3 separate regions of the Homo sapiens genome follow, and regions 2 and 3 are each linked to region 1. Evidence: fine-mapped expression QTL. A gene starts in region 1. Each other region holds a variant in brackets. All regions are shown on one strand. Distances are from middle to middle.

Region 1 (10,980 bases):
GGCCTTGTACAGCCCTAAGCGCAGGGCACAGGAGGCCCTGTCAAAAGACCCCTTAAACATGAATCCCATTCAGAGTCTGGTCTGTTGATAGTTTTGTCTTCAACCAGGCTGCTGTAAGAAAATCCCACAGACTGGGTGGCTTAAACAACAGTTATTTTCTCACAGCCTGGGAAGTTCAAGATCAAGGTACCAGCAGATTCGGTGTCTGGTGAGAGCTCTTTTCCTAGTTTGCAGATGGCCCCCTTCTCCCAGCGTGCTCACACACCTTTCCTTGTGGCCGCACTTGTGGAGAGAGGAAGAGGGAAGAAGAGAGGAAGGGGGGTAGTGGGAGAGAGAGGGAAAGAGGGAGAGAAGGAGGAAGAGGGAGGGGGGAGAGGAAGAGGGAGGGGGGAGAGAAAGAGGGATTTCTTCTTTTTCTAAGGGCATCCCATCATGAAGGTCCCACTCTCATAATCTCATCCAAACCTAATTACCTCCCAAAGGGATCTCCAATTAGCATCACATTGGGGATCAGGACTTCGACATATGAATTTTGCGGTTGGGAGACACAAACATTCAGTCCATAACTGCAGCACACTAAGGGAATTCATAACTTTAGAGAAATACTTCTAGAATTTCAGAGCTTGAAGGTCACGTCATGCAATCATGCTTATATTCTACACAAAGCTGTCGCCCAGCCATTTCCTAAACCTCTCCCCCCATCAATGAAATGTGCAGCACTTCTAGAGGCATCTGAGAGTAGATGTGTTAGAAATGAAGGGCCTCAAGGCACTGTCTCCCAGCAGCTTGCACAAGGTGACACCCATAGGGTACCCAAGCCACACAGATCACACTCATCCTTCTTCCACAGTACACCATTCTGCACTCTGAACACAGATTCTTCCTCATCACAAAAATAACATAAAAAAGAATCTGAGGCACACGCAATATAACCTGAGCTTATAAATCAAGTGGGACAACTTACCTATCATGACGATGTGCATCCTTTACTGCTATCATCAGAGGCAGGTGTCTGGGAGGTGGCCAGGACAGGCCTGACCCAGGACAGCACTTGTATCATTAAATGGCACTCAGAGGGCGCACTTCCAAGCAACTGGGACCCTTATCCAGAACACTCCGTCCATTCCCTCAGCACAGCCACTCTGGGAGAGTTCCCTAGTGTGCTCTGGCACTTCCTTCACTAAATTCCTATGGAGCACTTGTTGAGGGCAAGACATGGTAGAAGACAAGAGGAAGGAAAAATGAGGGCTGGTGAAACCACTGATTCTCCCTTCTCTGGCTCCCACCACACAGCCTTTCTAGCCCAAACTCACAATTAAACTGTCTTTTGCTGTGTGTCACTTATTTTCCCCCTACCCAGCTGAATCTCAGAGGAGGCACACCTGCAGTATTTTAGAAAGGCTGACTAGAAGTATCAGGCCTAACCAGACAGGTGCACATTTTAGTTCTTACATTCAATCCTTAGTATCTCACTGTCCAAAAGCCTTCAAAATGCTCCCAGGCACAACTCAGAAGAGTCTCCTTGCCACTCCCTCAGGAGGGTTTCTGCTTGTAATTCTCACTATCACAGGGCACATCTGGACCAATGAGTGGCTGCCGCAAAGACTACCAAAGTTGCCTCCACCTTGACCATGGCACCAGCCTTGCCATGCCCCTCCAGACCACATCACTTCTGCAGTGACCCTCAACCTGTGATTGTGGGCAGCCAGACCAAGATCTGGTGAATGAGCAAGGCAGAGTCCCTTCTGCTCTCTGTCCCCAACACAGTCCCCACCAGCCCAGGTAGCCCCACACCAGTGCCTACCATGCAGGACCTGCGTGAACTGCTGTGGGAGGGAAGGGGCCAGAACCTCTGAGGAGTGGACGCTTCACCTGCAGCCACCATGCTGGCACCCAGCAGGGCTTGATAAAGATCAGCCTGCTGCTATGCCCATGGGTCTCTGTGGCCCAGGCAGGCTCAGTCCCTCTTTTCTGAGAGGAGCCCAGTGGGCTGAACTACTAAGAGAAAAGGCCAAAGACCAAACGGAAGCCTTTAATATGAAGCCAAGTATTTTATCATATGAGGACATTCCCTCTCTCTAACCTACAACACTCCCACCCCCACAGAGAACCTGCTCTTAAATCTAAAGCACAATCCATGCACATTTCTTGATTTAATAGATTTTCTTTAAAGTAAAAAATCATTTATTTAAAGGAAAAATCGCCACAAAGTTTCAACTTGAACCCTATTTTATCAAACAACAGTTGACAGAAAATTTAATTTTTGGAAAGTAACTGGAAAATATAATTTATTTTACGCTTGAGGGGATTTTATATCAAAAGAGATGAATTCTTATATATACTAGTTTATCATACAGGTGGAAAAAGGAAAAACATGTAATTACAGCTGATTTTCTCGTTTCTAATTTTATACACACACACACCACCCCCCCAACACAAACAGGAAAACAATGGGATTTGCTATGCCTTCTTTCATGTGGAGCCCCTGGACCCTTACTTTGGCTCCCACCTCTCCATGTGACGGTGCCACTAAAGCTCCAGCAGCCACATGTTGTCTCACACGTCTCAGCTTCAGCCAACACTGCTCCACACACTTGGAATCCTGCCTCAGGGGCCAACTCTGCCCTGAAACTCTCACTGTTCATGAGTCAGAAGAAACCCCTCCTTCTGCCTTTCCACAGCATCAGGCTTTAGTACACACTTCTGACACTGCCCAGGTTCCATGAATCCTGCATTAGGAGGGTTATGCGTTCAACTTCTCTACTAGACCGTGCTTCCAGAGGAAAGATTCTTATGTCCTACGTGTGTCTGACACCCCATTGCCAAGGTACAGCATCATGCACATAACAATCAATTAGCAAGGTCTGATGATGCCAAAAGCTATCACCTTTAATTCACAACAAATGTTTATAGAGTAGTTTCAATCTCCATGCAAAACATGCATAGACAGGTTATAAAGCTCTGTGTTAAGTTCAACAAAAGAGTATTCCAAGCACCAGAGAGGGAAGCAGTAATTATCAACAGAGGAAGGATGAAGCCATGTTTTAAGTCTGCAGGCCTTATCTCAGTGTCTTCCCGGGGCCTGAGTTCACTGGCCAATATGGTGGGCAAAGTGCCAGCTCCATTTCAATTACTTCATTCTCCCTTTATTGCTGTTCTTTTTTTTGGTTTGTTTTTGGCTGAGTGCATACTACTAACTACACAAAATTAAATGCTGCATGACATGATCCCTCCCACTGTACCAACTCCATGTATTAATCTATGTACCTCTCCCCTCTTCTCAAAAGCCCTTCTTCTGGTTTTATCTAAATGTATACCTAATCTAATAGGTCTTCCCTGGTCCTGTTAGCTTCATCCCACATGTCTGTCCTCCCCTGGAACTCCTGAAAACACTTCAGAAAACATGGGAGTCTGCTTGACAGCTCCTCACCCAAGTGCCTGCCAACCTTCACCAGCCTGGAGCTCATAGCTCAACACCTGGCTGGGTGCTGAATTACACACAGCTGAATGACTTACCTGCTAACAGATACCTTCTAGTGCCCAACTGCATAGTAAACTGCCACAGGGCAGGGAGAGGGCAGGGCAAGAACAAGGTCTCAAAATCCTTTCCCATCTCCCTCAGCACACAACAGTGCTATGCACACAGCATGAGCTCAAACTCTTGCTAGTTAAAACCACTCCCAATACCCCAAAAATACCTCTCAGACAGCCCACCAATTTAGACGTATCTAAGGCATTACAGGTACAGGTGCCTTAGGAGTCCCTCTAGTACATGTGCTAGAGGTGGAGATTGGTCACAGAGGGTGACTAACTCCTTCCTCCTGCCTTTCTGTCCCAACCAGGTACCCAAGACTTGCACCTCCAAGACAGGGATCATGCCTCTTTTACTCCCGGGTCCTTGGAGGTCAGCACCGAGTTCAGCACACAGCCAGTACTGAAGGAGGAATTGACCAAAGGGAGAGATTATCTCCAGGACTCATGCTACTTGGTGGTTTTGCTTTCAGCTGGAAGCCTCAATCCACTGTCAAATGGAAACTTAAAGAACATCCCGATGACTATGCCTGCGCAAAGAGCAGGAAAACTAAAAACTATTTTCCACAATGAATTTGGCAACTTCCTGCCAAGCTGAACAACTTAGTGCTGCAGATTGCAAAATCACACTCATAGTCATTCTTTCCTAATCAACTATTCCCTCAACTTCACAATTCCCATCACCACCAACACCACACTCCACTCACCCAGACATACAACCTCCGCAGCACGTTTGACCAGTACTGCCGTTCATGGCCTATTAAATACTAGGTACTCAAGTGCTGCTTATTTACTCCTTGATCGCACAGCAATCACCCACCCATTTTCTTCCACTCTTCACACCCTCTGTGCACAAGACCTCAGCCGATGCCTTGCTCTCTGGCACCCAGCCCTCCAGGCCCCATCCTCTCACCTTCTTCCCAGACCCTAAATGCCACCATCATTCAACCAGTCTGTCCTCTGCTCAAACAATAACTTCACAGTTCTGAAACCATCAGCCTACACTCTTCTGTTCCAGGCTGACCCAGGCCCATATTCACTCTCAGACTCCAGGAACTCTGACTTATCCTCCTGCCTTGGCTAGGAGAGTCACTGTGTCTCTCTTTCCAGGAACATATAACATTCTCTGCCATCTCAAAACCTTAACAAAGGTCTTACTCCTTCTTGTCCAAATCCCACCCACCCTCTGACAAAAGTTTTCCCAAAGTCCAGCCGCACTGGGTCCTCTCTCTTCCCCTGCCACAGAACTGTATTTAACCCTCCTGCGCTACCTTCCTGTTGGTTCATAAACACTCTCTCCTGTGTGGAGAGTCAGAACAGCTGATGAGGAAGGTAAGGCACGTAGCCACGTGATCCTGCCCAAACCACCAGACTTTCCAATCTCACACAACTGTTATGAAGCTCAAATGATAATTTACAGGAAGGGGACTTGTTCATCTCACATTTGTAAGACCGTCCAAGTTGAGGATCCCTCTAATGCCTGCCAAGTGCAGATATTTCCTATCATTCACAACCCTAGAGAGCTAAGATCTCAGCAAATACCAATTATATGTAAGACACTGAAAGAACACACTTCTCATGGAGCACCGGTCTTCACATCCTCCATGTAGCCACTCAGGAACTTCTCTGGTGTAAAATTTTAGGCGGCTGGACAAATATGTAGGAGACAGGGGTGAAAAACGGGGACACAGCTATTCTTGGCAAATCTGGTGGCAAGGTGCCAGTTCTAAGGGTGGAACATAAACTATAAGCCACAGTCCGATCAGAGGGGCATGAGGAACAAAAGAACTGAGGAGTAGGGATGCGAGCAGAGTAGACCAGGGTACCAATGAAACACCTGGGCAAAGAACGCTTTGGACCATAAAACTGGGGCCACTGCCCTTCCTGACGCTCACGACCATCACAGCTGGGCGTACCCAGACTCGGGCCTGTGAGCCGTAAAATCGCAGCTCACCGGGCCAGACCGGGGCGGCCACTCCCCTCCGTCCTGGGCGAGGCTTACCAATCGAGATCTCCTGCGCGAAGGCCAGCGAGATGAGCAGCAGGGGCAGCCCCACCGCAATGCACGTGACCATCTTGTCCACAGCCAGCTCCAGTCGCAGCCCCTTGAACTTGGGCTCCGTGGGCTCCTTCAGCAAGAAATCCGAGAACACGTACTCCGTGGCCAGTTGAGCGATGGCCATGGCTGCGGCGCGCCAGGCTCGACCAGGAGGTCCGGGTACAGCCGGCGTCGGGAAAGCTGCGCGGCGCCTTCACCCAGTCACCGGCCGGGCGCGCGGCTTTCGCTTTCCCTTTGCCTGCTCCCGCATCCCGCCTGCCTTTGTGTCTCGGTGCCTCAGGCTCCCAGCGACTCCGCTGGGCTCTCGCGCTCGCTGCCTCCGCCGCCGGCGGGGCGGGGCGGGGCGGGAACCCGAGAGCTCCGCTTCCTGCGGTTCCACCCCGCACGCCCGTGCAAGTCCCCGGGCCGCGCGCGGCACTCGGATTCGCGCCTCTCCCGCGCACCCCCAGGCGCGGGAACCACGCGCGGAACAAAGCGCTTCCCTCTGGCCCTGCCCCTCCGCGCCGCCCTGGCTGCCGAAGCGGCCGCCGGGATAGCCCTGCGCTCACAGCCAGCTGCGCCGCGCTCTTCCGGAACCATGCGGGGAAACCAAGTACCCAGGGGCGTGGAGCTTCCGGAAGACGCGGTGACGCGGGGCGGGGTGGGCGCGGCTGCATTCCGCGCCCCTCGGGCCACTCTCTGACAAAGGGATTTTCCCACTGAGCGGCACCTTTGGAAATTCTCCCGTCCCTCCCTGCCGGATTCTCCTCACGTCCTGGCACCCGGGAGTTTTAAAATCATTTCTGCAAGCGACTCTTTCTGTGGATGGGATGGCCCCCTTTACGCCCCACCCCCAACATTTCCAACACGGTGAAATCGGGTTAGAAGGAGCTGCAAAAGCTTCAAAGAACAGTCAGTGCCATAAAAGGCCAATCGAGCGGTGTAGACCGACGGTGCCTTGCAGAGGGAGCGCTGGACCCTTCCAGGAGCTCCGCGTGAGAGGGTGGCGCGGAAACGGTAGTGAGTGTGGAGTTTCGAGGCCTGAGTAGCGCTGCTGGTCCCGTTTCTCTTTCCTCTGCCATCCCAATCAGAGCCTTGTTCCGGGAGCCAGCAGAGAGAGGGGGGCCTGCAGGTAGGTGGGTGTTGGGGCTGCAGAGAGCTGCTTCTGAACAGCTCATAGGAAGTGGATGATGGAAAGACAGGAGGAAATACTCTGACCAGTGTCCACGGAAATTAAGGCTGTTGAAGTAGAAATAATTTGATTTATTGGAAGCTAAATGTGAGGATCCACCCAAGAAGACTTACCAGCAAAGTTGGGCATGTTTCAAAATTTGTTACACGTTGGAAGGGTTTTAGAAGAAAGTTTAGGAAAAGGGAGGAGGACCCCTTATATCAGAGGTGGGATTTTTTTCATCGGAGGGTATGGTACACAGGTTACAGTCACTGGCTGCAGATGACAACATACAGGCTAAAATGTTTTGTGCACAAGAAAATCAAAGTTTATATGATTCAGAAACAAGTCAGTGTTCTTTTCAATGTCAGTATTTTACATACTAATCAGTACATCAGCAGTTTGAGGAACTGACAAAAGGATTTGAAGGACTCACAGTAAGATTTTTTACTCAGGGACAGGATCTAAGCCATGAATCATAAGACCTTTCTTAGATGGCTTAGTTTGGAAGCCCTGTCAAATGTGACATGTAGGTTATCACCAGTAACATTTGAAGCAGGCAGGACCTGCAAACATGAGGGCTCCTTGGGGCAGGGCTTGGCTCCCTTCTCTGTGGGTCCACAGATACAAGCCTCAACTCCCACATGTACCTCTCCACCCCAGCCTGGCCGCTAAACACACATCCAAGAGCGTATACAGCTCTCTCCGCGTAGATGGCTCATAGGGCTTCAAACTCATAACGGCCAGGACTTCAGTCTTCATCTTCCCCTTAAACCTGAACTCCATCTTCCCCATCTTACTAAATGTACCACCAGCCACCTGTGCACCCAAGTCGGAATCCTGGAGCACCATCTTCAACACTCCATTTCTCACAGCTGCCATAACCAATTTTCAAATTCTCTTGCTTCTCTCTCCTAAATATAGCAAATCTGACACCCCTCCACCTGCACTGCCAATACCCAATTCAACTCACCATCCTGTCTCCTAACCACATATAGGAAATATGTGAGACAGGGTCCCCCTCCATTCTCCTCTACAGCTGCCAGGATGAGCTTTTCAAAACTCCAGTCGGATCATCTTTTCTACTTAAAGTGTACATTGTTTTTAGCATAAAATACAAATTTCTTAGCATGGCCTCTGCCTACCTCACCACCAGCTTCACTGCTTTCCTTTCAGTTCTTCAAGTTAGCTAAGCCCTTGGCCTCCTCCAGGCCTTCCCACCCAAAACACTCCCCACAGTGGCCTCTTTGCCTGGCCCACCTTTATTCACCCTTCTGGCCTCAGCTTGATGTCACTTCCCTGGGAAAGCCTTCCCTAAGTAGACAGACTAGATTAGGTCCCTTTGTGAAATTCTCCCATAATACTAGCCACACTAGTTACTAGCTATTAGTCTTGGGGAGTTCTTTGACTCTCCTGTGTCTCAGTTTTCTCATCTGTAAAAAGGTTGTACCTCTTAGGACTGTGATAAGGACCAAATGAGTTAACACGTGGGTAGTGCCCAGTGCCTGGCACCTTGTGAATCTAGGTACATTTCATCTGTCATTGTTCTCTATTTTTCCTTCTTAAAAATAGTCACCATTGCAACTCAACAAATATTTATTCATTTATTTAGTGTTTGCCACCACTTTATGTGATCGGCTTCTTGAGGGTAGGCCCATGCCCATGTGTACCACTTTTATCCTCAACACTTAGCACAAATGCCTCACACAGAGTTGATGTTTTAATTCATATTATTAAATAAATGTCTGAAGGAATCTGAACACTTTTTAAAACTGGCCCAGTTCACACTCATTTATCCATACATTCCAGGCATATATTAGAGGCTGGTGATGGGCCAGTTCTGGGCTCAGTGGATGGGGAAGCAGAAATGAAGTGAATGGATTCCATTTCCTCAAAGACCTTATGGCTTAGCAAGAGAAATAAGGCATGCACACAATTAACTATAATGCAAGGTAGAAAGAGTGATTATTGTGAAAAGTGGGGTATACCAAGGGAGGTGCAGAGAATAAGTAGGGCCTGGGAGAATGTGTCAGTTGGGACATTCAGAGCTGGGACAGGGGCTTTCTGGGAGTCAGGAAATCATGGGTGCCATTTCCCTTCTTTCCTTGCCAAAAGCTAATCATCCGATAGGCTCAAATGGCCCCTTTTTAGGCTCAAATGCCCCCTTTTTAGGAAGCCTTCCAGGATCCTCCAGTTGTAATGAATCCTTCCCTCCCTTGTTACTCTCTCCTCTGGCCTAGAAGTTAGTTCATTTTGCCTCCTGTGATGGGATGATGGATTGTGTATCTCTTTTTTCATTACATAGCAAGTTCCTCTGAGGATCTGGAGTGAATCTCAGCAGTTGCATAAATTGCCCTCAGTTTTGGCAATTTTTTACATTCCATATGATGTTATCCTACTTTTAATGAATTTAAAATAGAAGCCAGATGGAGAACTTGTTGGAAAATAGTGTGTCCGGAATTGATTCCTTCTGGTGGGTTCTTGGTCTCACTGACTTCAAGAATGAAGCCACGGGCCCTCGTGTTGAGTGTTACTGTTCTTAAAGGTAGTGTGGACCCAAAGAGTGAGCAGCAGCAAGATTTATTGTGAAGAACAAAAGAACAAAGCTTCCACAGCATGGAAGGGAAGCTGAGCAGCTTGCCGCTCTGGTGGCCAGCTTGTATTCACTTATTTGGCCCCGCCCACATCTTGCTGATTGGTCCATTTTACAGAGCGCTGATTGGTCCATTTCACAGAGTGATAATTGGTGCATTTACAAAACTTTAGCTACACACAGAGCACCGATTGGTGCATTTTTACAGAGTGCTGATTGGTGCATTTACAAACCTTTAGGTAGACACAGAGCGCTGGTTGCTGTGTTTTTACAGAGTACTGATTGGTGCGTTTACAAACCTTTAGCTAGACACAGAGCACTGATTGGTGTGTTTACAATCCTCTAGCTAGACAGAAAATTTCTCCAAGTCCCCATCTGACCCAGAAGCCCAGCTGGCTTCACCTCTCAATCCCCCCTCTAAACAGGACACCCCAACTGCTGTTGGGAATTGGGTGATGACTGCTCTAGCTACTTCCTGCTGGATAGGAGCAAAGAAGGGGCCCTGCAGTTGTAGTATCCTCCAGAGGGGAACTCTTTAGGCCAGTGAAAGGACCAGCGGGTCGGTCCAGGGGTCCTCGGTAGAAGTTGTTAGTTGAGCTCATTTGGGGTTCCATTGGTAAGACCATCTGTAGCTTGATGGCCTCGATCCTAGAGGAAACAAATTTAACAAGGAGTTTAAAAATACAGGGCCCGAAGGCAAGTAATAGTAAGATGGCTGCCATGGGACCTAGAAAGGGGAGAAGCCATGTTGCCCAACTCCAGAGGTTGGTATAAGAGTTTGAAAGGCATTGTCTGATTTTGGAAGCCTTTTCCTGTAAACGCCAGGTGGCATATCATACTATCCCTGAATGGTTAGTGTGAAAACAACACTCTTCCCCTAAGAAGGTGCACAGTCCTCCTTTCTCAGCAGTGAGGAGGTCTAGGCCTCGGCCGTTTTGGAGAGTCGCTGCTGCCAAAGAGTCTATTTGGGATTGTAGAATAAGGATAGATTTCGTTATCTCTTGCAAACTGTCTGAGAAATCCTTTGAGAGTGTGTGGTAGTAGGATAATGAAGTAGATAAACTGACTATTCCGGTTCCTGTAGCAGTAGCCATTCCTAACCCCATAAGTAGGGGTATTAGTTGTATGGCTCTGCACTAACAGACTTGAGCTTTGAGGGGTACTGATAGGGTCTGATTTCCTGGGGAAATGTTAATGTCGGGACTTAGAAATACTAAGGTGCAGGTGCCTTCCAGTTAGTGGGGTGGCAGATATAGTTCAACATTCCACATAAGAAGAATATACCTTGGCTGGGTAGACAGAACTGGTTGTGTATGTTATAAAGGTGTGTGAGTTTATTGTTTTCATTTTCCTATACTCCTAGAATACTTGCCAAGATAGCTGCTATGAGTGGCTGGAAAGGGGTGTTGGGAGCAAACTGAGTGGCTCCCTGTGTTCTATTTTCCCATTGGAGAAAAAACCATTTTGTATCTACTAGGAACCATTCGAGAGAGCGATTGAAAGAGGGGATGAGATGGCATTCACTAGTGGTGGGGATACTGCTGCAGGGGGTCCAGGGGTGAATGGTCATGCAGAGAGTATGTTTGCCATTACAAAACCTGGACTGTTTGTTAAGCAGGGAGGAGGTGATGATTTTGGGGGCCCCTG
Region 2 (10,980 bases), 65 kb before region 1:
GCACTCTGCTTTCTAACTTCCTTGTATCATTTCGTAATTTCTCCAGGCAACCTAAAGGCACAGTATTATCTCAATTAAAACAAATGAGAAAATGAAGGCTGAAAGGCTTAATTAACCTTAAGCCTAATAAGTGGAGGAAGTGAGATTTGAACCCAGGTATAGCTTGATCTAAAAGCCCTGACACTTATAATCACTGTGTAGGCTGCTTCTGATGGAAATTTCCACATTGCAGGGCCACTTACCCTCCTTGTTGCTTTTTTTCACCTGGGTTTACCAACATTCCCACCTTTCTCTTGGAGCTTCTGCTTCCAATTGCTCCTCCTGACCCAGATGGAGGTGGCAAGCTGGGAGAAGCAAGCACAGAGAGTCAGCATTTTGTCAAGCATAAAGTCAGGAAGGAATCCCACTGTTGTACTAGAATCTGATGGTTTCCATAGCAACAGAATCAATCAATCAGTTAATCAACAATAAATTGTTGAGCATCATCCATAAACTCAGTTCAGTGTTGCAACTTGAAGGGCAAGGAAGAGGGAAGAGGGTGGGAGCAGAATTATGAAGATGAAGGAGGCACGGGGCGAGCTGTGGGTGTGGGCGTGGGTATGGCTAGTTTCCTGCACCAAATCTGTGCAGAGAGGCCAGAAGTTGGCTGTGATTCAGAAAGGCAGATGGATATCATTCTGAGCTGCTGCTCAAAACTCTAAACCCCAGAGCCACTGTTGGTTGATCCACTGTGTTCAGGTACTTTTACAGAAACCCTGGCAGCTCCTGAATGTCAATAGAGGAGGAATTAGGGGCAGCCATATAGTTGCTTGAGTGTGGGCTAAAGGTTGTGTTGTGAAACTGCATTTATTTAGAAAGCATACTGACTTTTACTTAAATTTAAATTTCAGATGGCCGGGAAGTAGGCGGGTCTAATCAGGAGGAATTAAACTACCCCCTCCCTGTTCTTGACCAAAGTATTTATTAAAGACCTCTTAAGCACATGTCACTTTGCCTTTTCAATGTGGATTTTAAAAGCAGAACAAAGACTGAGGATAATTAAACATACTCTAAGGAATGGTGAATACATTCATAACAAATATAAATTGTAAAAATTGAAATCTACCAGCATTACTACGATGCAGCTCTGATGGCATCTCCAGTTCCTTCTCACTAGGCAATGGGTAAAGTTCTCAGCAGGGAAGGCTAGGACCTGGTCTTCTGTTGCTCTCACTGGCCCACAGCAGTTCTTGGTGGCCCTGTCACTTCCTTTGTTCACAGATGTCATGCCAGTCATGGAGTTAGCTCTCTCCCTGTTAGTTTTAAGGGAGAGAGCTTTTGCCAACTGTATTTCCAGAGCGCTGCCTACTTCTGCTGCCTGCTGCTGTGCAGATCCCTGTTTAAAGACTGGAAATGAGGAGGCAGGAGAGCCAATTCTCAAGCCCCAACACACATAAGAATCACCTTCAGAGCTTGTGAAGAATTCATATTTTGGGGCCTCACTGTCAAGATTTACTGAGTCGGAGGAGGGGTCAGGAATCACTCTCCAAACACCTCACAAGATTCTGAAGCCTGCAGGACCACCTCTGGGAAACACTAGTGTGCATGGTGGTTGGGAGAATGAATTCTAGTCAGGGAGGTCTGTATTTTCACCTCTCATATCTTGTCCTCTCAATTGTAAAATGGGGAAAAGAGCACCTTCCCTTGGGAGGCCAAGTGCCACCCCAGGCCCTGCAGCTAGTAAGTGGCAGAATAAGGCTTGTACTTGCTGGCCCTAAAGTTGCATTTAACCTCGATGTCAGAGTGGGTCTAAAAGCTGTGATATGACTCCTCCCCAGGTCTCCAGCCACCGCAGGCCAAGTGGGGTGTCATGTCCATGAGGATGATAAAGAACATATGAGTAGTGCTCACCACAGAGGATGTACTCAGAAAATGTGTGATGAATAGATGATCAGACAATAATTACAGCGGCATCATTTGTGGAGTCCCTTCTCTGGACTGGACCCTCCACTAGTGCTTCTGAGTCCTGCCCTGGAAGTGGGCCCCACTATTTGTCTATATAGTGACCACTCATGTGACAGCTACCAGCTCTCCCCCTCCCTACCTCAGGACAAATTAGGGGATATGACGCCCTTCATCTAGCTTCTTTCCCCCTCTACTCTACCTCCGTACCCTGTCTCAGAACTCATCTTCCTCATCTATAAAGTGGGGATAATTGACCCTCTTTTTCCTGCTATTGGACTACAAAATGAGACGACGTCAGTGCTATGGACCAAATGTATGTGTCTCACCAAAATTTATATTTTGAAGCTGTAATCCCCAATGTGATAGTGTCTAGAGGTGGAACCTTTGGGGGGTAATTAGATCATGAGGGTAGAGCCCTCATGAATGGGATGAGTGTCTTTTAAGGAGCAGCCAGGGAGTGAGCTAGCTTTCCCTCAGTCACGTGAGGATACTGTGAGAAGGCATCCCTCCACAAACCAGGAAGTGAGCTCTCACCAACAACCAAATCAGCCAGCACTTTGATCTTAGACTTCCCAGACTTCATACTGTGAGGAATACATTTCTGTTAAGTCACCCAGTCTGTGGTGTTCATGTTCTAGCAGCCCAAACTCACTTAGACAACCAACATAAAGTGCCCCCTCCACCATAAAGGATGTTTCTGACCCCTCTGGCTCCCTTCCAACTAAGGATGTGTATTAGTCCGTTTTCACGCTGCTGATACATACCCAAGACTGGGAAGAAAAGGAGGTTTAATTTTACTTACAGTCCATCATAGCTGGGAGGTCTCACAATCATGGCAGAGGGCAAAAGGCAGTTCTTACATGGCAGTGGCAAGAGACGATAAGGAAGAAGCAAAAGCGAAAACCCCTGATAAACCCACCAGTTCTCGTGAGACTTACTCACTATCACGAGAATAGCACAGGAAAGACCAGCCCCCATGATTCAATTATCTCTGCTGGGTCCCTCTCACAACACCTGGGAATTCTGGGAGATACAATTCAAGTTGAGATTTGGGTAGGGACACAGCCAAACCCTATCAGAGGGCCAACCACATTGGCAGCACTCAGCCCCAGTTCAGGGTGGGCTACACTCATGGGGGTGGGGTGCACAGGGCCATCAGGGATGCCCAGCCCTTGAGTCAGGGTGGGAAGCCAAGATAGTCCAGTGGGCCACAGCTGGTGCTGCCTTGTTGCTTCTGTGAATGTACGTGCCCTCTCAGAACACTGTCTTTTCTTGGAACTGGTGAAAGGAGCTAGAAATGTGTGCAGGGCACCAGGCCTCTAGCATGGCCTATAGTGGGGGTGTCCTCAGGGACCTTCATTGTTCCTTTGGTTCCCAAAAACGCCACTAGATCTTCCTAATAAACAGGTGTTGACAGATTCTGATCCTTCTGGAACAACTTCCCCTTCTCCTAGCTGTCTTCTGCTGGGTCCCCCTGGTTCAGTGCACAGGCAGGCAGTACAGCACAGGGCAGGGATTCTCAGATGTTGGTATGTTTCAGAGTCACCAGGAAGGTGTGATAAATGCACATCCCCAGGCCCTGCCCCAGAGGTCCTGACTCAGTGGGTCTGTGGAGAGGCCCAGGAATCTGCCTTTTTAACAAGCATGTCCACATATTCTGATGCAAGCAGTCCTCTGGTCACAGTTAGCACTGACATGACTCGGGTTTTCGAGTCAGGCTGGCCCAGGATTAGATCCTGGCCGTGTGGTTTGGGCAGGTCATGGAGCTCCCAGGCTTCTGTTTACTCTTCTGGGGAGGGTGCCAACCTACTCATTATTACATAGTAAGGGGTAAACTAGTTCATTTAGACTGTGTGCTTTAGCAAAGCACCTACCACAGCAGGTGCTTTGTGAAGGAAACTTTTCCTAGGGCCAGGAGACTTCCCGCCTGCCCCCTAAGCCTGTGCACCACCACCTGAGTGCATGTCTCTTCTGATGACATGATGGGGAGTTATCTGAGGGCAGGTTGGTTGTCGGCTTGTTCTGGGGGCTGCAGGAAGAAAGAGGGGACCCCAGGGTGGAGGTGAGCTAAGAAGAGAGAACTTGTGAGGTGGAGGTTGCAGTGAGTCGAGATCACGCCACTGCACTTTGGCCTGGACGACAAGAGCGAAACTCCATCTCAAAAATAAAAAAATAAAAAAATAAAACATGAAAATACGGTAAAAAATTACTGAGAGTTCTACTGTAAGGCCAACAACAGATTCTAATAAAATAACCAGAACTAATATTAGGCTTCACCTGTGCCAGGCATTGTAGTTGCTGACATCTGTTCCCTCTTTTAACCCTCACAAGAGTCTTCTGGAGTAAGTGATATTATCATTATTTCTTGGTTGAATATTGTGTTGTTAGAAGATCAAGGAAGTTCTTTAAGTTGTGCAGCAAAACTGCATCTGCTGGCCTTCAGAGCCTCTTTAAATCCAGTTGAAAAAGAATTCCTCAAACTAGTGGCACTTGACCAAAATGTTACATGTTGATAGAAAAATATGCTTAAATATGTGTCAGAAAATTATGATGCTCTTTCCCTTCTGAAACAATTCAGTCCTAAAATCATTAAACAGGTGACCAAGGCAGCTTGGTGCAAAGTATAAGACCTCAAGACGAGCAAGGAGGTGGACACTCTGGTGATAACCGTGACTCTGCTGGGCAGTCCAGACTGGGCTTATGAAAGGCAGCAATGCATGGAGGACCCTCACTCCATAGACAGTCAAGCATTGCATAGTGATAACATTTCGGTTGAGGACAGACTGCACATACAACATACCTTATTTTTAAGGTATTACTGCACCTTTTCTACGTTTAGAGTTGATAGATACACACATACTTAATGCTGTGTTACAGAATTCAGTACAGTAACATGCCGTACAGGTATGTAGCCCAGGAGCAATAGGCTGCATCATATGGTTATACGATCTAGGTTATAGTAGCTAGGTTTGGGTAAGTTCTCCACGATGTTCACATGACAGAATCACATAAAGAAGCATTTCTCAGACTGTATCTACATTGTTAAGTGATGCATGACTATATTTCTATATTATCCGATTTTCTTTTGCAATAAATGTATACTCATCAATAGCTTGCATCATCTTTGAAAATTAAAACTAAAACTAATAAATGACAAAAGAGAAAGGAGTAGAAAATGAGAGGAGCCAGTGGCCTGTTTTGGGATTCACCTTCTGCCACCCCAGCCAGGCAGGGCAGGATGAGCTGGCAGCCCTGGCCCGGGGAGAGGAGCGCTGAAGCAGGCAGAGTGTGTGTCTCCGGCAGTGCCCACGCGGGTTTGCACAATGGCCCTGGGGGCTGGGGTTCCCTGGGTAGCTTCTCCAGCCTCCGCTCCAAATGCTCGGGAGGTTCACACCCACAAGGTCCATCTGGCTGTTGCCCGTGCTGAGTCAAAGATGTTCTTGAGTCATTCCAAAAATGCCCACGGCACCTTCACAACTCTGCCATCTTTGCTGCCACTCACACAGGGCCCAGTGACAAAACCTGGGGGTTGAGGGTAGGGTGTCTCGCTGCTCTTGGATGAGGTCGAGTTTTTCTGTCTTAGCAATAGCCTTTCCAGTATCCTTTCCCAGCTGAATTCGCCTCCATTGGGTTCTGAGCAGCAGCTCGAAATGATGTCCTTTTCACTTAACTATTGTAAATGGGTTTCTATTTGAGGTAAGATAAATAGCTATTGTTGAGCTCCTGTAGAGTGCCAGGTACATCATTCTCATTGAATCCTCACAACAACCCTGAGGAGTAGACACTGGTACAGGGAAAACATTTTAAGTGACTCACTGGGTCACCTCTTGGAAGTATTAGAGCTAAGACTCCAAACCAGATTTTCTGATATCAAAACTCAAATTGGGCTTTCTCAATATGCTAAATCGCCTGTCTGTAATGCTCCAATAGTTTGGGATTTTCTCGTTTTTCAAACATGGCTTACGATGTGAATAAAGAAAATGCTGCTAGACTTAAAAAAGACTGAGGGATTGAGTGTTTATTATGTGCCGGCATTACGTTTACTGCCTTTGTTTAATCGACTTCAGCC[C/G]TCGTCAAAATCCATGACTTTCTGTCATACAGGAGGGAACTAAGGCCCAGAGGAGTCAAGAACTCAGGTCACGCAGGTCAGCGGGCAGCCTCAGGCCAGAACTCAGGCAGCTTGTCTTGAGAACCCATTCCCTTAATGTCCCTCACCCCAAAACTAAAGGAACATCCTCACTGGATTGTGAAGATTTAATGAGCTAATATGCACTGTTTAATGCCTGGCATGTAGGCACTCAACAAATACTAATTTCCTTCCTTCTTTCCATCTGGATTCCCAGGGATCTAGTGTGGGACACGATGAAAGAAGACATAGACCACAGAGACACAGACCAATAGATTCTAGAGGTTGTTTAGTCCAAGCCCCTCACTGGGCAAATGGCTCAGAGAGGCGAAATTATAGATGGAAACAAAGCTTTAGGCTTTCTTGGTCTTCCTTTTCCTTTTTGCCACCATAATTCCCAGCAAACTCCATGACCCCAGAGGCTTGCTGGATTTTTCACCTTAATATGCCCAATACCAGATAGCAGGTGTTTGAAAAACCCTTTGTTGAATGAATGAATACCAACTTCACTCTGCAACTGAGTCTGAAGTCATGAAGGCTATTTCCTCATGAGTTTCCTATCTAGGGAAAAGCCCACCAACCCTTGGTTCCCTGCCCCAACCTGATCAATGCTCAGGGATGACTCACTGGCTTGAATACGAGCCCAGCTTCTCAGTTGATGTGCTGCACAAAGGCCATCCTTGGGCCAAGTGGGAGATGAATCACCTGGCACAGATTGCAGGCTTGGAGGAAGGCACAGGATAGTGAAGGGAGCACTAGGCTGGGAGAAAATAGGGTATGAATTTTTCTCCACTTAGGCAGTGGGAGTCTATGACTTAGAAAGCTCATCTGATGGGAAAACTTTTGGAGGGACTCTACCATGTGCTCTTATTACATTGCTTTCTCCACTTCACAGGTTAAAGAATGAGCACCTGTAGTTTGCTCTCAGAGGGGTGAAACACTACATCACCCACACACTGACTTTCAGCTTCCATCCATCTCCCCTCAGCTTGCTGTGTGCTCAGCATGTTGCTAGACTGAGGTTGGGGTGGGGAGGTTGACAGATTATTTGCTCCTACTGTTAGGTTGAGTTGGCGACAATCTCCTTAACTTCTGATGGTTCCTCTTAGTAATTTTCCATCCAATGACCCCCATCCTGCTTCTTGGTTATAAATTTCCACTTGCCCATGCTGTATTCGAAGTTGAGCCCAATCTCTCCCACTGTGAAATCCCATTGCAGTGGTCCTGATACCTGTTGTGATGGTCCTGAATAAAGTTTGCTGTCCCATGCTTTAACAAGTGCATCGAACAACTTTTCTTTAACAAAGACTACTAAAAAGGCACTAAGATGCCTGAATTTAACAGACTTGTAGCCTTTATGAGAAGGACTAGCAGCAAAACAAAACAAAATAAACATCAATAATGACAATTAAGGCAAGACAGTGTGGGCACTGGGGAAGCAGCCCAGTTCTTACTCGTTTATTTCAGATAAAAAAGCCTCAAAGGGAGGAGGTAGTTAGTTTGCATCACTGTGAGCAGGCGAGAATATGCATCCAGTTAACCAATTCTGCTTAGAGGGCAACTTAATCTTGCAGAAAGGAGACCGATCTCTAAGGGAAGAGAATTCCAGGCCAAAAGAAAGACACTGACAAGGACACAGGGACAGTGAAGCACTTCATTAGGTGGGAACAGATGTGCATAAAATAGTCTGGCCAACCTATTCCGTCCAATATGGTAGCCACTAGCTACATGCGACTATTGAGCTGTTTAAATGAGGCCAGTGTGAAATGAGATGTGCTCTAAGTAAAACATACACACTGAAATTAAAAAACTTAGAATGAAAAGTAAAATATCTCAATATTTTGTATCCTGAGACTTTGTTGAAGTTGCTTATCAGCTTAAGGAGATTCTGGGCTGAGACGATGGGGTTTTCTAAATATACAATCATGTCATCTGTAAACAGGGACAATTTGACTTCCTCTTTTCCTAATTGAATACCCTTTATTTCTTTCTCCTGCCTGATTGCCCTGGCCAGAACTTCCAACATTATGTTGAATAGGAGTGGTGAGACATGGCATCCCTGTCTTGTGCCAGTTTTCAAAGGGAATGCTTCCAGTTTTTGCCCATTCAGTATTATATTGGCTGTGGGTTTGTCATAAATAGCTCTTATTATTTTGAGATATGTCCCATCAATACCTAGTTTGAGAGTTTTTAGCATGAAAGGCTGCTGAATTTTGTCAAAAGCCTTTTCTGCATCTATTGAGATGTGGTTTTTGTCTTTGGTTCTGTTTATGTGATGGATTACGTTTATTGATTTGCCTTACATTGAAACAGCCTTGCATCCCAGGGATGAAGTCCACGTGATCATGGTGGATAAGCTTTTTGGTGTGCTGCTGGATTCGGTTTGCCAGTATTTTATTGAGGATTTTTGCATCAATGTTCATCAGGGATACTGGTATAAAATTCTCTTTTTTTTGTTGTGTCTCTGCCAGGCTTTGGTATCAGGACGATGCTGGCCTCATAAAATGAGTTAGGGAGGATTCCCTCTTTTTCTATTGATTGGAATAGTTTCAGAAGGAATGGTACTAGCTCATCCTTGTACCTCTGGTAGAATTTGGCTCTGAATCCTTCTAGTCCTGGACTTTCTTTGGTTGATAGGCTATTAATTATTGCCTCAATTTCAGAGCCTGTTATTGGTCTAAAAATCACAAGCATTCTTATACACCAATAACAGACAAACAGAGAGCCAAATCATGAGTGAACTCCCATTCACAATTGCTTCAAAGACAATAAAATACCTAGGAATCCAACTTACAAGGGATGTGAAGGACCTCTTCAAGGAGAACTACAAACCACTGCTCAACAAAATAAAAGAGGACACAAATGGAAGAACATTCCATGCTCATGGATAGGAAGAATCAATATCATGAAAATGGCCATACTGCCCAAGGTAATTTATAGATTCAATGCCATCCCCATCAAGCTACTAATGACTCTCTTCACAGAATTGGAAAAAACTACTTTAAAGTTCATATGGAACCAAAAAAGAGCCCACATTGCTAAGTCAATCCTAAGCCAAAAGAACAAAGCTGGAGGCAGCACACTACCTGACTTCAAACTATACTACAAGGCTACAGTAACCAAAACAGCATGGTACTGGTACCAAACAGAGATATAGACCAATGGAACAGAACAGAGCCCTCAGAAATAATACCACACATCTACAACTATCTGATCTTTGACAAACCTGACAAAAACAAGAAATGGAGAAAGGATTCCCTATTTAATAAATGTGCTGGGAAAAGTGGCCAGCCATATGTAGAAAGCTGAAACTGGATCCCTTCCTTACACCTTATACAAAAATTAATTCAAGATAGATTAAAGACTTAAATATTAGACCTCAAACTATAAAAACCCTAGAAGAAAACCTAGGCAATACCATTCAGGACATAGGCATGGACAAGGACTTCATGTCCAGAACACCAAAAGCAACGGCAACAAAAGCCAAAATTGACAAATAAGATCTAATTAAACTAAAGAGCTTCTGCACAGCAAAAGAAACTACCATCAGAGTGAACAGGCAACCTACAGAATGGGAGAAAATTTTTGCAATCTACCCATCTGACAAAGGGCTACTATCCAGAATCTACAAAGAACTCAAACAAATTTACAAGAAAAAGAAACCCCATCAAAAAGTGGGTGAAGGATATGAACAGAAACTTCTCAAAAGAAGACATTTATGCAGCCAACAGACACGTGAAAAAATGCTCATCATCACTGGCCATCAGAGAAATGCAAATCAAAACCACAGTGAGATACCATCTCACACCAGTTAGAATGGCGATCATTACAAAGTCAGGAAACAACAGGTGCGGGAGAGGATGTGGAGAAATAGGAACAGTTTTACACTGTTGGTGGGACTGTAAACTAGTTCAACCACTGTGGAGACAATGTGGCGATTCCTCAAGGATCTAGAACTAGAAATACCATTTGACCCAGCCATCCCATTACTGGGTATATACCCAAAGGATTATAAATCATGCTGCTACAAAGACACATGAACACGTATGTTTACTGTGGCACTATTCACAACAGCAAAGACTTGGAACCAACCCAAATGTCCAACAATGATAGACTGGATTAAGAAAATGTGGCACATATACACCATGGAATACTATGCAGCCATAAAAAAGGATGAGTTCATGTCCTTTGTAGGGACATGGATGAAGCTGGAAACCATCATTCTCAGCAAACTATTGCAAGGACAAAAAACCAAACACTGCATGTTCTCACTCATAGGTGGGAATTGAACAATGAGAACACCTGGACACAGGAAGGGGAACATCACACACCAGGGCATGTTGTGGGGTGGGGGTAGGCGGGAGGGATAGCATTAGGAAATATATCTGATGTAAATGACGAGTTGATGGGTGCAGCACACCAACATGGCACATGTATACATATGTAACAAACCTGCACGTTGTGCACGTGTACCCTAGAACTTAAAGTATAATAAAAGAAACTCAATATTTTTATATTGATTACACGTTGAAGTCTTTTGGATATATTAGGTTAAAATAACCATTAATTTCACTCATTTATGTGGCTATTAGAAAATTTAAAATTACTTACATACGTCTCTCATATTCAACTGGACAGAGTGTCTAGACCACCCTTTTTTTATTATTATTTTTATTTTTTTGAGACGGAGTCTTGCTCTGTCTCCTAGGCTGCAGTGCAGTGGCGTGATCTCTGCTCACTGCAACCTCTGCCTCCTGGGTTCAAGCGATTCTCCTGCCTCAGCCTCCCAAGTAGCTGGGATTACAGGCACGTGACACCAAGCCTGGCTAATTTTTTTTGTATTTTTAGTAGAGACGGGGTTTCACCTTGTTACCCAGGATGGTCTCGATCTCCTAACCTCATGACCCACC
Region 3 (10,980 bases), 82 kb before region 1:
TAATAAATGGTTCTGTGATAGCTGTCTAGCCATATGCAGAAGAGTGAAATTGGATCCCTTTCACTTATACAAAAATTAACTCAGGATGAATTAAAGATTTAAGTGTTAGACTGTAAACTGTAAGAATCCTAAAAGAAAACCCACGAAACACCAATCTAGACTTTGGCCTTGAGAAATAATTTATGACTAAGTCCTCAAAAGCAATTGCAACAACAAAAAATTGACAGGTGAGACCCAATTAAACAAAAGAGCTTCTGCACAGCAAAAGAAACTATTAACAGAGTAATCTGTGACCTATGGAATGGGAGAAAATATTTGCAAAATATGCATCCAACAAAGGTCTAATATCCAGAATGTATAATGAACTTAAACAATTGAACAAGCAAAAAAACAAATTACCCCATTAAAAAATGGGCAAAACACATGACCAGACACTTCTCAAACAAGATATACAAGTGGCCAACAAACCTATGCAAAAAAGTTCATCATCACTAATCATCAGAGAAATGCAAATCAAGACCGCAATGAGATAACATCTCACACCATTCAGAATGATTATTATTTTAAAAATAAAAAATAGCAGATTCTGTCAAGGCTGCAGAGAAAAGGGAATGCCTATACGTTGTTGGTGGGAATGTAAATTAGTTCAGCCACTGTGGATAGCAGGTTGGCGATTTCTCAAAGAACTTAAAACAGAACTACCATTTGACCCTGCAATCCCATACTGGGTATATACTCAAAGAAAAACAAAACATTCTACCAAAAAGATACATGCAAATGTATACGCATTGCAGCACTATGCCCAATAGCAAAGACATGGAATAAATCCTGGTGCCCATCAATGGTGGATTGGATAAAGAAAACATGCTACATATACACCAAGGAATACTACGCAGCCATAAAAGAGAATGAAATAATGTATTTTGCAACATGGATGCAGATGGAGGCCATTATCCTAAGTGAATTAACGCAGGAACAGAAAACCAAATACCACATGTTCTCACTTATAAGTGGGAGCTAAATATTAGGTACTCATAGACAAAAAGATGAAAACAACAGACACTGGGGACAATTAGAGGGGGAAGGGAAAGGGGAGGGAACCATTGAAAAACTAACTATTGGGTACTATGCTCAGTACTTGGGTGATGGGATTAATTGTACTCCAAACCTCAGCATCACACAATGCAAACTTGCACAGGTACCACCAAATCTAAAATAAAAGTTGAATTTTTTTAAAGTGCTTCCATGTGTTAAAAGCTGTAGCAAGGGAAGAGGGAAAACTGGTGAGTTGACCACTAAGACTTAAGCACTTGGTCCAAAAGCAACACACATCCCTTTTGTTCTCATTTTATTGGCTATATCTGGTAACACAAACATAGCCAACTTTAAGAGGGCAAGGAAGCACAGTCTTACTTATCTGGACATAGAGGAGAACCACACATTGGCACCCATTGGCAGCGTCTACCACATTGGCACTGGGACTTGGCGTGATGTATTTAAGTCAGATATACCCTGTTCGAGTCCCAGCTCTGCCACTTGCAGGGACAAATAACTCAATCTTGCTGAGTTATTTTTTCTTTTTGTGTAAAATGGAGACGACACCTGTTCCTGTTGAGACTCAAATGAGCTAATGTAATTGCAAGTGTTTTGAGAACTGTAAGCACTAGCTATTAATTGTTAAGATTATCAGAAGCCCTTGCAAAATTTAATAGAAGAGGGAGCTGAGGTTTCTAAATAGAGAAATGACAAAGTACAAAAATACCCTCAGGGGAAACATTTCTAGCAGTTAGGACTAGAGAAGGAATTCATTTTTCATCCGTTCTTAGTCCTCACTGTCTTATATAGCTATTTTTTGTTCTTCTTTTATTTATGAATTGTTGATCGACTCATCATGTACATGTTTAAGGTTTCAGGGACAATGAATTGCATCTCTCTTTTCTATCTAAGTTTGGAATCAATTGAAAAATAGAAGTCAAGCAGAGGGAAAATAAAATGTAAATTTTGTTAGTAATAAAGCTGATATTGGAAAACATAGCATTAGTGTATGCAACGGTGGGTTTCTTAATACTAAGTACTAGAATTAAACAGATCCTCTCAAATCATTTCAATATAATGCAAGTGTGTTTAAAGAAATGTGTGCAAAGAGCTATGGAAACAGGGCAAATTACTCCTCAGCTCTGTGGTGCCAACCACAAAATAAGGATGGATTAGAATGTCAGTCCACCATCCATGGCTGTGCAATTGTGTACTGCACAACTCTAGAGGATATTATAGCCTATGTGCTATTCCCCCTTCCCTCCAACAACAAGTTGAGTAAAACACAGCTTGAATGACTGCACATAGAATAACTGCATGAGAAGAATAGACAACCTTTAGGGCGTGTAAACCACTTTGAAGATCTAATGAAATACAGGGATAACACTATCTGTAGAAAGATTCACAAACTCAGTGTAGAATTTCACAAATAATTTCAGGGGTGACACAAACTGTCAAAAGCTCATCTTTGAAGAGCCAATTAAGAATTGCTTCAGAAAATGATCTCCAAAACCCTTTATAGCTCTGATAGTCCATAATTCTGGATTGCATGGTTTACCTGGCAACAATCTGGGGAAAATGTATGAATGATAAGGTTAAAAAAAAGATAAACTTCAAAACACAATGCACGCATCAGCACAGAGCACAAATGGCCCAAGCCTAAAAAGCTCAGGCAAAAATCTACAGTAGTTACTAGGATAGGCTTTTGAAATTATGGATAGCTTCATTTCTCTCTCTTTTGACATTTAGAAATTGCTGTGTTATTTTTATAATGTTTAAAAAGAAAAAAGAAAGAGATAAACAACCCCTGTGGTTTCTGTGCCATTGGCATTTCTTTGAGAGTAGACGTTGTTACTGCAGGGGAGGTAAGATTTCCATGACTTCCTGGCTTACCATTTCAGTTGACTCTCCAGAGGTCACGGTCAGTGAGACTCACCTGAGTCCCAGCCCCTGGCCTGGTTTTACTTCTGAAATCACATTCAGAAGAAAGTTAGACCAGCAGGGCTATGTGAGAGGCTGACTTTAAATGAGCTTTGAAGTTTCCTTCCAAGATGCGGCGGACCCTGTAAAGACACAGTTCGGTGTATATTAAGCTTTTCAATTACTTTACTCTGAACGAAGGTGCCTCTTCCCTCTCCATTCCCTTCAGTTAACATATTATGGGATGATAACACAATATCTCAAATGAGGCTTTTAAAAGACTTCACTTTTACTCTGAAGAACATTCTCATCTTTTCGTGGGAAGCAACTACTTTTTATTTCCCAGGGACGTAGGAACACCGAGGAGGTAGAACAGAGGGCACACAATCAGAGGCATGGGAAAATGGGAGGGATGAGAACATGGACAAGGAGACCGATATTCTCTCCTCTGAAGGACTTCCCTGTTCTGAGAGCTTCCAAAAAGTGAGAAGGCAGGATAAAAGCCACAGTAACCTGCTGGGAGACCTCCCAAGGAAATTAAAGTCTTCCAATCCTTGGTAGTTTAGACTAGGCTAAGCAGACATTTTATATGTGTTTAATTGGTGCCTTCCATCATGTGAAATGGTTTAAATCTGTTGTTCTTGGTGCAGTGTGGTGGCTCATGCCTATAATCCCAGCACTTTGGGAAACTAAGGCAGGAGGATTTCTTGAGTCCAGGAGTTCGAGACCAGCCTGGGCAAAATACTGAGACTCTGCCTTCACAAGAAAAGTTAGCAAGGCATGGTGGTGCATGCCTGTAGGTCTAGCTACTTGGGAGGCTTAGGTGGGAGGATCGCTTAAGCCCAGGAGTTGAGGCTGCAGTGAGTTGTGATCACACCAGTGCATGCCAGCCTGGGAGACAGAGCAAGCCCCTGCCCCCATCACACATAAAAATTAATTGTTCTCAAGCTTCAGGATCATCTGGATGATTAAAATAGTTGGTTAAGATAGTGGCCTCACCTCCAGAGTTTCTAATTCAGTAGATGTGGGATAAAGACCAAGGGTTTGCACTTCTCACAAGCACCCAGGGAATGCTGTGGCTACTGGCCCACAGACTACACTTTGAGAACTACTGGTTTGACTGCATTTCCTATTTTCAGAATGAGAAAAACAGAATATGAACAGTGTGTTCAGGGCAATAGAGGATGCCGGAGAGATAAGGAGAATCCAGTTTTCCTGGAATGTCAAGCAAAAAAGTCTGTATTTATTCTAAAGTAATAAGAAGTTACTGAATGATCTTAAAAGAGTGAGTCAGACGGCCTAAATTAAAATTTAAGAGATTATTCAGGAGGCATTCAACTCCCCTCTTCCCTTAGAAAGACACCAGAAAGATGTTAAGGGTTAGGCTTACGCCAGGAACTCCAGGTGAAAAATGGATTGAAGATAATATACAGTCAAGAAAGGTGATGCCCATTAAGACATGGGTAGAGGGCTGACGTGGAGGAGGTAGTCAAAGGAGCAGCATGTTTCTAATACCGGTTTAAAGGGTGTAATGAGGATCCATTGTCTGGGCTCTGGGAACAGGCTATTGATTATATTCTGCAGGCAGCATCACCAAACTTTCAAATTTAAATCTCTGGCTTTTTCTCCATATAATACTCATTATACATACATCACGTAGAAGAAAATATAGATGTAAAAGAAAACACATAGTGCATCACACAGATCATGGACATTGTTAAATTATACCACAATGCTTATCATGAGAAAATTTTCTGGGC[A/C]AAAGGAGAAGGAATTACAAAGAGTGAAAGAGGAAGCTGTCCCATATGGGATGGGAGCTGGGGTTATGACATTTCAAGATGGAAGGCATGTAGTGGCAATATATATTTGCTGAGAAGTGAATGGATACATGAATGCATAATTTAACAGTGTCAAATTAAAATCTATTGAAAAGACTTAGAATGGAGCAAACCCAGTGGCTTTAAATGCTATGCACTCAATGGTTTTCAGATCATGAGAATTAACCCCACTGGATCTCTGCCCTTTCACACTACAAATGGGGACTGTGCTCAATTCATAACAGGACGTTTTGAGAGGGCAGTCACATGTTTTTGTGAACTGAGAGAAAAGATAATGGCTCTAGGAAAATGGCTCTATGTGAGAAGTTGCCTGTGTCATCTTGTGTGGATGCTTGATTCTGATTGCCCTTGGAGAGCTTGGGTCCTCCTCATTATCTTATACATGTCTCATGCAGATTCTCAGCTTTCCTTCAACTTTCAAATGATAGTCACTTCTGGGTTGAGGTTGGCACTAGAGTACACAGAGTTCCCCTCTACCATCAGTCTCCACCTGCCCCGCTCCTGCCATGATGAGGCCTGGGACCTGCCCTAGGGCAACACAGTGATTTTGAGAACCAGGAGATTTCAAATGTCTTTGCTTGTTCAAACAATGCCCAGTTATTTTCCTTTGCCAATAATTCACAACTTCTGGCAAGATTGTTTCTGGATGTTATGTTCATTTTATGGCTACATATGTCTTCAAAGCTGAGACACAGCTTCCGACACAGTCTCCTCTGGCTCTGGTTCAGAACTGCCTGAATTTTCTCTTCATCACATCCTTTTGATGGATCACATTTGGGTCACAAAAAGTGATTCCTATGGTCAGTTTGGGCTTTAGAGTCCTATAAAATTCTGGATGAAGCACAGAGGACCTTTGCACTAGATTTTAATGTTTCACTGTTTGAGTGGGCTCTGTTAACTGTGCACATGGGGTGCCTGACTGCAATACATGTCTCTTTCTGAAGCCAAGCAGTTCATCCAAATTAAACTGCTAGAATCTGCAATGAGCTTCGAGGCAAATACTCTGTCTTCCTAGTGGTTTCAACTGTGTAGACAGAAAAAATTGTACATAGAGCTAACTACACACACAAAAATCTGGTTTTGGCCACTGGTTTGGGCACACTCAAATCCAAAGTTGGTTTCTTGCTTTCCTCAGCTTTACTGAGGTGTAGCTAACAAAAAAGTATACATTTATTATGTAACAACATATTTTGAAATATGTACATTGTGAAATGGCTACATTGAGCTAATTAACATATGCATTACCTCACCTACTTATAATTTTTGTGGTGAGAAAGAACATTAAAAATCTACTCTTAGTGATTTTCTGGTTTTCTTCCTTCAACTTTTATTTTAAGGTCTGGGGTACATGTGCAGAATGTGCAGTTTTGTTACATAGGTAAACACGTGCCGTGGTGGTTTACTGCACAGATCATCATATCACATAGGTAGTAAGCCCAGCATCCCTTAGCTATTCTTCCTGACGCTCTCCCTCCCCCCGACCCCTACCCCCCACAGGCCCCAATGTGTGTTGTTCCCCTGCCATGTGTCCATGTGTTCTCACCATTCAGCTCCCACTTATAAGTAAGAACATGCAGTGTTTGGTTTTCTGTTCCTGCATTAGTTTGCTGAGGATAATGGCTTCCAGCTCCATCCATGTTCCTGCAAAGGACATGATCTCATTCCTTTTTATGGCTGCATAGTATTCCATGGTGTATATGTACCACATTTTCTTTATCCAGTCTATCATTGATGGGCATTTGGGTTGATTCCATGTTTTTGCTATTGTGAATTGTGCTGCAATGAACATACACGTGCATGTATTTTTATAACGAATGATTTATATTCCTTTGGGTATATACCCAGTAATGAGATTGCTGGGTCAAATAGTATTTCTGCCTCTACATCTCTAAGGAATGCCACACTGTCTTCCACAATGGTTGAACTAATTTACACTCCCACCAACAGTGTAAAAGCATTCCTTTTCCTCCGCAGCCTCACCAGCATCTGTTGTTTCTGGACTTTTTAATTATCACCATTCTGACTGGCATGAGATGGTATCTCATTATGGTTTTCATTTGCATTTCTCTAATGATCAGTGATGTTGAGCTCCTTTTCATATGTTTGTTGGCTGCATGAATGTCTTCTTTTGAGAAGTGTCTGTTTATGTCTTTGCCCACTTTTTAATGGGGTTGTTTTTTTCTTATAAATTTGTTTAAGTTCCTTATAGACTCTGGATAGTAGATCTTCAACAGATGGGTAGATCACAAAAATGTTCTCCCATTCTGTAGGCTGTCTGTTCACTCCGATGATAGTTTCTTTTGCTGTGCAGAACCTCTTCAGTTTAAAATGATCCCATTTGTCAATTTTAGCTTTTGTTCTAGTTGCCTTTGGCATTTCATCATATAATCTTTACCCATGCCTATGTCCTGAATGGTATTGCCTACATTTTCTTCTAGGGCTTTTATTGTTTGGGATTTTACATTTAAGTCTTTAATCCATCTTGAGTTAATTTTTGTATAAGATATAAGGAAGGGGTCCAGTTTCAATTTTCTGCATATGGCTAGCCAGTTCTCCCAGCACCATTTATTAAATAGAGAATCTTTCCCCCATTGCTTGTTTTTGTCAGCTTTGTCAAAGATCAGATGGTTGTAGGTGTGCAGTCTTATTTCTGAGTTCTCTATTTGATTCCACTGGTCTATGTGTCTGTTTTTGTACCATTACATAATGTTTTGGTTACTGTAGCCTGTAGTATAGTTTGAAGTTGGGCACCATGATGCCTCCTGTTTTGTTCTTTTTGCTTAGGATTTTCTTGGCTATATGGACTCTTTCTTGATTCCGTATGAATTTTAAAATAGTTTATTCTAGTTCTGTGAAGAATGTCAATGGCAGTTTAATGGGAATAGCATTGAGTCTATAAATTACTTTTGATAGTATGGCCATTTTCACGATATTGATTCTTCCTATCCATGAGCATGGAACATTTTTCCATTTGTTTGTGTCCTCTCTGATTTCCTTGAGCAATTTTCAAGAATATAATACACTGTTATTAATTGTAGTCACCATATTTTACAATAGATTTCTGGAACTTATTCCTCCTATCTAACTGAAATTTTTCATCCTTTGATCAACATCTCCCCAACTCTCACCTGCTCTTAGCCCCACCATTCTACTTTCTGCCTAAGTATGTCTTTTAAAAATTACACATATAAGTGGGATCATATGGTATTTATATTTCCGTACCTAGCTTATTTCACTTAGCGTAATGTCTTCCAGATTCATCCATATTGTAACCAATGTTAGGATTTCCTTATTTTTGTAAGGCTCAGTAGTATTCCATTGTGTGTGTGTGTGTATGTGTGTGTGTGTGTGTATATATATATATATAATTTTCTTTATTGATCCATTAAGGGACAATGAATTCCATATTTGTTAATTCCATACCTTGGCTATTGTGAATAATGTTGCAATTAACATGGAGTACAAATATCTCTTTGACAAACTGATTTTTTTAATATATACCCAGTAGTAGGATTGCTGGATCATAGAGTAGTTCTATTTTTATTTTTTTCAGAAACTTCCAGACTGTTTTCCATAATGGCAGTATTAATTTACATTACCACCAACAGTGTGCAAGTGTTCCCTTTTCTTCACATCCTCACCAACACTTATCTTTTGTCTTTTTGATAAAAAGTAGCCGTTCTAAGTGGTGTGAGGTAATATCTCATTGTGGTTTTAATTTGCATTTCCCTGATGATTAGTGATGCCCATTTTTCATATACCTGTCAGCCATTTGCATGTCTTCTTTCATGAATGTCCATTCAGGTTGTTGGCTCATTTTAAAAATCAGGTTATTGGTTTTCTTGCTCTTGAGTTGAGTTCCTTATATATTTTGGATATTAGCCCCTTGTCAGATATATGGTTTGCAAATATTTTTTCCCATTCTGTATGTTGTCTCTTCACTCTGTTGATTTTTTTCCTTTGCTGTTCAGAAGCTTTTTAGTTTGATACCATCCTATTTTCACTTTTGTGCCTATGCTTTCGGAGTTATATCCGAAAAATAAGACAAATGTCATGCAAGTTTCCTTTATGTTTTTCTCCAGCAGTTTTATAGTTACAAGTCTTATGTTTAAGTCTTTAATCCATTCTTACTGACTTTTTATGTGGTGTGAGATGAGGGTCTACTTTTCTTCTGCAGCATATGGATATCCAGTTTTACCAACACCATTTATTTGAAGAGACTGTCTTTTCCCCATTGTGTGTTCTTGCACTTTTAGCAAAAATTAGCTGACCATAAATGCATAGGTTTATTTCTGGGCTTTCTACTCTGTTCCATTGGTCTATGTGTCTGTCTTCACACCAGTACCATGCTGTGCTAATCACCATAACTTTGTGATATATTTTGAAGTCAGATAGTGTAATGCCTCCAGCTTTGTTCTTTTTACCTTGGCTATGCAGGGTCTTTTGTATTTCCATATGAATTTTCTGTGAAAAATGCCATTGGAATTTTTGATAAGGATTATATTGAATCTATAAATTACTTAGGGTAGTAAGGACACTTGACAATATTCTTCTAATTCATGAACATAGGGTATCTTTCCATTTATTTGAGTCATCTTCAATTTCTTTAATCAATGTTTTATAGTTTATAGGTCTTTCACTTCCTTGGTTAAATATATTCCTAAGTATTTCATTCTTTTTGATGCTTTTTAAAATAGGATTGTTTTCTTAATTTCTTTTTTGAGTAGTTTTAGCATATAGAAACTAATTTTTGTATATTGATCTTATAACCTGCAACTATACTGAATATGCTTATTAATTCTAACTGAGATTTTATGGAATCTTTAGTGTTTCTATTTATGATTATGTCATCTGCAGAGACAATTTTACTTCTTACTTTAGGATTTGGATGCCTTTTATTTCTTTGTCTTGCCTAATTGCTCTGGCTAGGACTTTCAGTGCTAGGTTAAATAGAAATGGCAAGATTGGGCATGCTTGTTTTGTTACAGATCTTGGATGAAAAGCTTTCAGCTTTTCACCATTGAGTATGATGTTAACTGTGGAATTGTCATCTATGGCCTTTATTGTGTTGAAGTGCATTTCTTCCGTATCTAATTTGTTGAGGTTTTTTTTTTTTTTTTAATCATAAAAGGACGTTAAGGGCCAGGTGCAGTGGCTCATGCCTATAATCCCAGCACTTTGGGAGGCTGAGGCGGGTGGATCACCTGACATCAGGAGTTCGAGACCAGCCTGGCCAACATGGCGAAACCCCATCTCTACTAAAAATACAAAAATAAGCTGGGCATCATGGTGGGTGTCTGTAATCCCAGCTACTCTGGAAGCTGAGGCAGGAAAATCGCTTGAACCTGGGAGGCAGAGGTTGCAATGAGCGAAGTTTATGCCATTGCACTCCAGCCTGGGTGACAAGAGTGAAACTCCGCCTCAAAAAAATAAAAATAAAAGGACATTAAAAAAGGAAATTGAATTTTGCCAAAGGCCTTTTCTGCATCTATTGAGATGATTATATGGTTTAAATCCCTTATTCTGTTAATGTGATATATCACATTTATTGATTTGCATATGTTAAATCATCCTTGCACCCTTGGGATGAATTCCACTTAATCATGGTGTGCAGTCCTTTTAATGTGTGGTTGAATTTGGTTTGCTAGTATTTGGTTGAGAACTTCTGAATCTATGTTCATCGGAGATATTGGCCTATAATTCAGTTTTCTTGTCTGGTTTTGGTATTAGGGTAATGTTGCCCTTGCAAAATGAGTTTGAAAGTGTTCCCTCTATTGAATTTTTTGGAAGAGTTTGAGAATGATTTGTATTAGTTCCTTAAATATTTGGTAGAATTCTGTAGTGAAGTCATCAGGTGCTGAACTTTTCTTTGATGGGAGGCTTTTTATTACTTGTTCAATATCCATACTCATTATTGGTCTGTTCAGATTTTCTCTTTCTTTGTGATTCAGTCTGGTAGACTATATGTTTCAGGAACTTACTTATTTCTTCTAGGTTATCTAATTTGTTGGTATATAATTGTTAATAATAGTCTCTTATGCTCCTTTGTATTTCTGTGGTATCAGTTGTAATGTCTCCTTTTTTCTGATTTTGAGTCCTCTCTCTTTTCTTCTTAGTCCAGCTAAAAGGTTATCAATTTTGTTTATCATTTCAAAAATCCAAGTCTTAGTTTTGTTCATCTTTTGTT

Alleles and levels. Alleles are on the strand shown, and positions count from the first base shown. SD is a standard deviation of normalised expression in the study named. Not every link is listed here.
In carriers of allele A in region 3, the expression in spinal cord of the gene that starts at base 6,186 in region 1 tends to be lower than with C alone (large effect, 0.88 SD a copy in GTEx).

The links. PIP is the estimated chance that this variant, and not a neighbour inherited with it, causes the effect.
Region 2: its variant is fine-mapped to the expression of PANX1 in whole blood (TOPMed, PIP above 0.99).
Region 3: its variant is fine-mapped to the expression of PANX1 in spinal cord (GTEx, PIP 0.93).

What each region holds. Positions count from the first base shown.
Region 1 is chr11:94,124,047-94,135,026 of GRCh38, reverse strand. It overlaps PANX1 (pannexin 1), which reads right to left and starts at 6,186. Exons shown (of 5, transcript NM_015368.4): 1 at 5,534-6,186. The coding sequence starts at 5,714. RefSeq lists enhancers at 1,295-1,794, 5,614-5,873, 6,194-6,253 and a silencer at 5,894-5,963.
Region 2 is chr11:94,189,254-94,200,233 of GRCh38, reverse strand. It overlaps LOC105369435 (a long non-coding RNA gene), which reads right to left and starts at 2,825. Exons shown (of 5, transcript XR_947901.3): 1 at 243-2,825. The variant C/G (reference allele first, on the strand shown) is at 6,014.
Region 3 is chr11:94,206,200-94,217,179 of GRCh38, reverse strand. It overlaps LOC105369435 (a long non-coding RNA gene), which reads right to left. Exons shown (of 5, transcript XR_947901.3): 3 at 2,929-3,098. Among named protein-coding and RNA genes, the nearest start is that of PANX1, 83 kb to the right of the region's middle. The variant A/C (reference allele first, on the strand shown) is at 4,716.